Homo sapiens: one gene and its partner. The protein of the gene in region 1 interacts with the protein of each later gene in a pairwise test. Each region holds a gene or a part of one and is shown on either strand. Other genes may lie near its edges.

The links. The genes of interacting proteins can lie anywhere in the genome.
Region 2: the proteins of ETV4 (region 1) and EPAS1 come close enough for resonance energy transfer, tested with the Homo sapiens proteins (one study listed by BioGRID).

The regions. Positions count from the first base shown.
Region 1 is NC_000017.11:43,536,339-43,539,844, reverse strand, and holds part of ETV4 (ETS translocation variant 4), read left to right. Parts: intron 1-3,070; exon of another isoform or gene 3,071-3,365; coding exon 3,366-3,419; coding exon of another isoform or gene 3,420-3,433; intron 3,434-3,506.
Region 2 is NC_000002.12:46,359,901-46,363,406, forward strand, and holds part of EPAS1 (endothelial PAS domain-containing protein 1), read left to right. Parts: intron 1-737; coding exon 738-856; intron 857-984; coding exon 985-1,190; intron 1,191-3,506.

The DNA of each region.
Region 1 (3,506 bases):
AAATTGTTGAAGAATATTCTTGCCAAGCAACATATCACAACCTAAAATATCCCCTGTGAGATGTGCTTTCCTGGAGAGGACCTGCCTCTAGTGTTGCCTTGTGTGTGGAGAGGGGGAGCCTGCAGGGAAGGGCTAGGATGGTCAGGATCTCTTCAGTGCATGCCCTCAGGCCCACAGTGCTGACTTCTGCCAGCCTGAGGACAAACGATTATTGCATGTTTATTCATGTAGTCAAGAAATAACAGCACTGAGCGTCTACTCTAACCCTGTGCTGGGTGCTGGGGCATCAGATGACAAAAAAGATAAAGCTCTTGCCCTCACAGAGCTTAACTTCCTGGTGGAGGAGATAGGTAGATAACAAACAGGTAAACATAAATTAATATATTCAGGTGGCAATATGTGCCAGGGAGAAAACAAAACATAGATGCAATAGAGAGCCAGGAGGAACCACTTTGGTTTAGGGGTGGTCAGAGAAGGCCTCTCCAGAGATGTCAAAGTGAGCTGAGACTCTGATGGTCAGGAAAAAAAGAAAAAGGCAAGAAAGCATCTGGGGAAGAAGGAACAAGCTCAGCAGCTTTGAGGGCTAGAAAGGAGACCAGAGTGCTGCAGATTCACAGGCAAGGAGAGGCAGGTCAGAGAGGTAGGCAAGGCCAAGTCATGCAGAGCCTTGGAGGCCAAGGGCAAGCGTTTGGATTTCATGCTTTAAATAACAGAGAGAAATGATTTTATTTCTGTTGTAAAAAGATCACTGTGACACCTAGGTGGAGAGCAAGGGACCATAGGAGGTAAGAATGAAAATAGGGTATCCTGGTAAGAGGCCGTGGGTGAAATCCAAGTAAGAAATGATGGAGCCTTAGCCTAGAGAGAAGCAAAAGAGATGGGATATGTATTTGTATAGGCCGGGGGTGTGGAGGTTTTTTCTAGCCATCTCATACCCCTCACCAGCCATTTTGACCTCTCTGGGCATTTTATCAGTTTCCCCATTGTCCAATCTGAGAGCAGTCTCCAGGGAAGGAGAGAGCAGTCTCCAGGGAAGGAGAGTCCAGCCTCCTCGGGCTACAGGTTCCACTGCATCACCCTAGAACCACTCTCTTCCTGGAATAATATCAGGAAGTTCTTCTTGGTGTCTACATTTCCTGCTGTGATCCATTTATTTTTGAGAGAGGGGCAAAAGTGGGCCAAGACTCTGGGATCAAGGGAGATTCTTAGCTGTATAACCACCTGAGAAGCCCCGCTCTGGGGAGGCCAGAATAAGAACTAGAAATCAGAGTTTGATGTTCAGGTTAGAAGCCATGGATGAGCTGCTGCTGTATTTCAGTTTTCCTGCCTATTCCCCAACCCAGCTCCACCCATCCTGGCATCCTGGGAGAGCTCTTCGGATCACCAACCTTGGGAATCCCTCCCCTCCTTAGCTGCACATTAAGGGGATGAGGCACCTATGTACTCAGCCAGTGTCCTTTGCCTTCTGCAGTGGTCCCAGTCACCAGCCTCCTGCTCTCCCACTGTCATCCTCCTTTTTTATTTTATTTATTTATTTTTGAGATGGAGTCTTGCTCTGTCGCCAGGCTGGAGTGCAGTGGTGTGATCTCAGCTCACTGCAACCTCCACCTCCCGGGTTCAAGTTATTCTCCTGTCTCAGCCTCCGGAATAGTTGGGATTACAGGCGTGCCACCACGTCCAGCTAATTTTTTTTTTTTTTTTTTTGAAATGGAGTCTTGCTCTGTCACCCAGGCTGGAGTGCAGTGGCCTGATCTTGGCTCACTACAAGCTCCGCCTCCCAGGTTCACGCCATTCTCTTGCCTCAGGCATACTCCTGCCTCAGGATTAGCTGGGACTACAGGCACCCGCCACCACACCCGGCTAATTTTTTTTGTATTTTTAGTAGAGACAGGGTTTCACTGTGTTAGCCAGGATGGTCCTGATCTCCTGACCTGGTGATCTGCCCGCCTCAGCCTCCCAAAGTGCTGGGATTACAGGCGTGAGCCACCGCGCCCGGCCTAATTTTTGTATTTTTAGTAGAGACAGGATTTCACCATGCTGGTCAGGCTGGTCTCAAACTCCTGACCTCGTGATCCGCCCACCACGGCCTCCCAAAGTGCTGGGATTACAGGCATGAGCCACCATGCCCGGCCTTTATTTTTCATTTTTTGGAACAGAGTCTCACTTTGTCACCCAGGCTGGAGTGCAGTGGCATGATCTCAGCTGACTGCAACCTCTGCCTCCTGGGTTCAAGCAATTCTCCTGCCTCAGCCTTCCGAGTAGCTGGGATTACAGGTGCCCACCGCCACGCCTGACTAATTTTTTAATTTTTTAGTAGAGATGGGAGTTTCACTTTGTTGGCCAGGCTGGTCTCAAACTCCTGATCTCAAGTGATCCTCCCACCTCAGCCTCCCAAAGTGCTGGGATTACAGGCATGAACCACTGCGCCCAGCCACCCCCCTATGTGATTTTATTTATTATTTAATTTTATTTTTCTTTTGAGATGGAGTTTCACTCTTGTTGCCCAGGCTGGAGTGCAGTGGTGCGATCTCAGCTCACTGCAACCTCTGCCTCCCAGGTTCAAGCGATTCTTCTGTCTCAGCTCCTGAGTAGCTGGGATTATAGGCTCCCGCCAACACGACCAGCTAAGTTTTGTACTTTTAGTAAAGATGGGGTTTCGTCATGTTGGCCAGGCTGGTCTCGAACTCCGGACCTCAGGTGATCCACCCGCCTTGACTTCCCAAAGTGCTGGGATTATAGGCGTGAGCCACCATGCCTGGCCGCCTCCTATGTGATTTTTAAATCCACAGGATCCCACTGCTTATAATGCCTGCCCATCCTAGATATGACTGTTGTGAGCTTTAAGGGAGTTTTGTAAACTCTGAGGGGCGAGGCTGTTTCACTTCAGAAAAATGGAGGAAATAAAGACAAAGCATCTAGAAGAAGAAAGACTGGAATCTGCTCAGACAGGTTCTGAGAACAGTCTTCCCTCCTGGGTCTTAGTGGAGCCCAGAGGTGGAAGACACTAGGACCTAGGGTGGAGCAGCCTTTAGTCTCAAGCAAGCTTGTCCAACCCGTGGGCCTGTGGGCCACTTTCAGCCCAGGGTAGCTTTGAATGCGGCCCAGGCCCAACATAAATTCCTTGTAAAATTTCTTAAAACATTATGAGATTTGTTTGTGATTTTAAGTTCATCAGCTATCGTTAGTGTTAGTGTATTTGTGTATTTTATGTGTGGCCCAAGACAATTCTTACAATGTGGACACCCCTGATCTAAAGGCTGTTGGTCCTTTCTTGGCTGTTGCTAATCTGCAGGGCTGTAATAATGGAGCCTCCCAGGGGACAACCAGGGCTCCGCCCCAAACTCACCTCTGACTTCTCTCTGCAGCTCAGGTACCAGACAGTGATGAGCAGTTTGTTCCTGATTTCCATTCAGAAAACCGTGAGTAGAGGTCCCTGGGGAGAGGGTATAGGGAGTGGAGGATGGCAGGAAGTGAGTCATAGGATAGAGAATCACAAGAGAGCAGCT
Region 2 (3,506 bases), on another chromosome or scaffold:
GTTTGGCAACTATAAGGAAGTAAGCTATATTGCTGGTCTTGGTGATTTAATTTTTGCTGAGAGAGAGGATATGATCCAGGTTGAGTTAATCCATAAAGTGGACTTGCTCACCAAGTCCACTGTAAGGAGATTCGTACCAGAGTTCTCTCTAGAGCCTTGATACATATGTCACTTCAGGGACAAAGCTAATGGCATGGTATCCTGAACACAGCTATTGCAGTTTGCAAATGGGGTACAGGAGGGGTTAAATTCCTCCTGAGAGACAGGTTATAAAGGAAAGACGGGAGTGTCGGAGAGACATTTCTAACCTGTGAGGAAGGCTTACACCCTTGGAGTAACTGTGGCCTCACTCAGACTGTCCCTTGGAATTTCTGCGAGAAGACCTGGGCCTGCCCCAGGAAAGGGTGGCTGAGTTAGTGGCTGATAGGCAGTCGTTGTGTCGCTGCTCTGAAGGCACCACTGACCATGTTCCAGATGCAATGGGAAATCAAATGATGGAGCAGCTCCTCCCTTGTGGGAGTTTATGCTCCAGTTGAGGAGATAAGCTTGAGAGTGGGAACCATTAGTTCACAGGCCATGATGGAGCTCAGTGTTGATGGCAGACCACAGGTGCTAAGAGAGCAGATATTTGGAAAATATAAACAATAGGCTGCCAAGAAAAACTGCAGCTGGGCCCCTCTCATGAATATCCATATAAAACTGACTTCAGCTGGTTCTTCCCATCCTTCCACATCCAGGCTCTGGTTTTGGGAAAAAAAGCAAAGACATGTCCACAGAGCGGGACTTCTTCATGAGGATGAAGTGCACGGTCACCAACAGAGGCCGTACTGTCAACCTCAAGTCAGCCACCTGGAAGGTAGGGCAACATCAGGCCTGGGTTGGAGTCCCAGGTGTAGGGTAACGGCGGTGCAGGGGATGCCTAAGGCCCTACCCCCACCCCCAGCACTCTCGGCTCCATGTCTGACCCTTCCACGCCTGTCTCAGGTCTTGCACTGCACGGGCCAGGTGAAAGTCTACAACAACTGCCCTCCTCACAATAGTCTGTGTGGCTACAAGGAGCCCCTGCTGTCCTGCCTCATCATCATGTGTGAACCAATCCAGCACCCATCCCACATGGACATCCCCCTGGATAGCAAGACCTTCCTGAGCCGCCACAGCATGGACATGAAGTTCACCTACTGTGATGACAGGTAGGGGGCCATGGGTGTGTATGCTGTGGGCAGAGATGGGTCTTACCTGTGTGTGTGGGGAGTTGTGCCTGTATTAAAGGTGTGGAACTGAACATAGACGTGGTATTGCCGGGTGCATGTTCGTGGACCTGTGCCACTGTTTCATTGCATCAGTGCCCCTCAGAGGTTCCCGGTACTGTATTTGGTGGTCTCCCATTGACAGAGCCTCAGGGTCCATCTGCAGAGCTTTCCTGGTGTGCAACTCTTCTCATCATTGTGGTGTGAACATATTTCTCCATACGTGTATCAGGCTCCTGAGGAAATTCTCAAGGCAGTCTTCTGCCCCAGGAGAAAGAGTCTAGAGACTTCCATCTGTACTCCTGCTTCAGAGGCCAGTAAGGAGCATCAGCTTCTGCCCTGGAGACTGACCCTCTTCCATTACTGACTGAGCCTTTCCCTCCGCCTTGTTCCTTCCTGCATGCAACTCCATTCCGGCCAGTGTCCAGCCATTTTGAAGAAGATGAAGGTAGCTGAGCCAGATGCTAACCCCCCAGTGCCAGGCCCAGTGTCTCTTAGGAGACACAGTAGTGATTAAGAGCATGGGCTTCAGGACTAGATGGCTTAGGTTCAAATTTAGTAATAAATGTTCAGTGTTAGCTCTTATTATCACCTTTATTAGAGTTGTTGAAAGAGTGCCTAAGACTGCTTAGGCATGTCATGCCATCTCGGGTTCTTAGCTCATTTAGAAGATTGAAGCAGGTGGGGAAGAGACTGGGGTTGTCATAGGAGGGAGTATTTAGATACCCTACAGCTCCTAACTCCCCCACCAGCCCTGCCTCTGGGACTGTGGAGCCTGATGATGGGAGGTAGGAGGAGGAAGATGGGGAGAACAGATGCCCGGAGCAATGGCCGGCCCCAGGGAGGGAAGGAAATGCAGAAGACTGGGCCCAGGGTAGGCCTGGCTTGAGTAAGCGCCACTGGGGCTTGCTGAGCAGCACCCCCCGCATGCGCCCTTCCTGGCAGAGATCTCCCTGCCTGACCTCAGCTTTCTGCAGCATCTAGAGCCGCCATGTGTCCCAGGGTGACAGTTCCTGTGGCAGCTCTTTGCCACCCCCAACTCTTTGCCACTCTTCTCTCATCTTCTAGGGTTTCTCCTCAGGAAACCCTCAGATCTCAGTTTCCCCTTCTCCAAAATAGAGATAACACTTTCTAACCTGTTTCATGGGGTCACTGTAAAATGAGATAATGGCTGTGCAAGCACTTTGAGAAGTCCAGACACCACAACACATGTGAGGCTTCTTGTTATTGCTTATATCTTACTTCCTGTCCTTGGCCTCCTCCAAAGCAAAATCTTCCACTAAACTCAAGGAGCTGAAACCACTTCTGAAGGCAGTTAGTGGCTGGGGGGCAGGAAGAGGAAGAATCTGACCCCCAGATCAGCAAGAATCTGCCTTGTCTTCCTCAGCTAGCAGGAAACCATGGAACCCCAGGAAAAAAAGCTCCTGCTCAGCCTCCCCTAGGCCTACCCACTTTTCTCTTATCAGCTGGACATCCCAAGGGCATCTGGTTTCTTCATGGGAGGGACCCTCCTCTCCAGGATGGGGTTTCTCTCCTCTGATTCCAGACCGGCCTGGTGTTGGTTGGTCGCCCCTTCTTAGAGTTGGCCACCACTTGTGGCACAATTTCAGAACTTTTGTAAAAGTATCCTTGAGTCATTCCTGTCCTTCAGTTCTGACCACAGTAGGGCCAGGATTCACAGCCTTTGGAGCTAGTGGGTAGTTATATAAGTAGAAAGAAATGCTCTAACCTCATAGGGAGAAAATGTCATGCATGAAGCCTTCCGTCCTGGAACTTCGACACAGTCACCATTTATTGTAATTGTTAGTGGTGGTGGTGGTGGTGGTGGTAGTGGTGGTGGTGGTGGTGGTGGTGGTGGTGGTGGTGGTGGTGATAATGATGGTGGTTCAAGAAGAAGATTGCACTTTTAGTGACAGGCACTGCAGGAATCCATGTTATAGGTAAGGTTATTTATCAGATGCAGTCTTTGTATTCAGGTGAACATTCTGGGCAGAAGACACAGCTTTGTGTACCTCAGTAGTCTTGTGAGATAACATGGACAATCCCACTGCATAGCCCCTGTGTCACTGGCTTTGAGGTGAAGTGGCTCAAGCCGACGTAGCCATATAGCCTGGGAGCATATATAGTGCTGGGGATGATGAAAGTCAGATACGTGCTTCACCCTGGTGAATGAAGCACATCCGTAACATAACTCCATAAGCACTGGGAAAACCCTACTGTCCTAGAAAATAACTTGGCATCCCTACATAATAGAAAAGA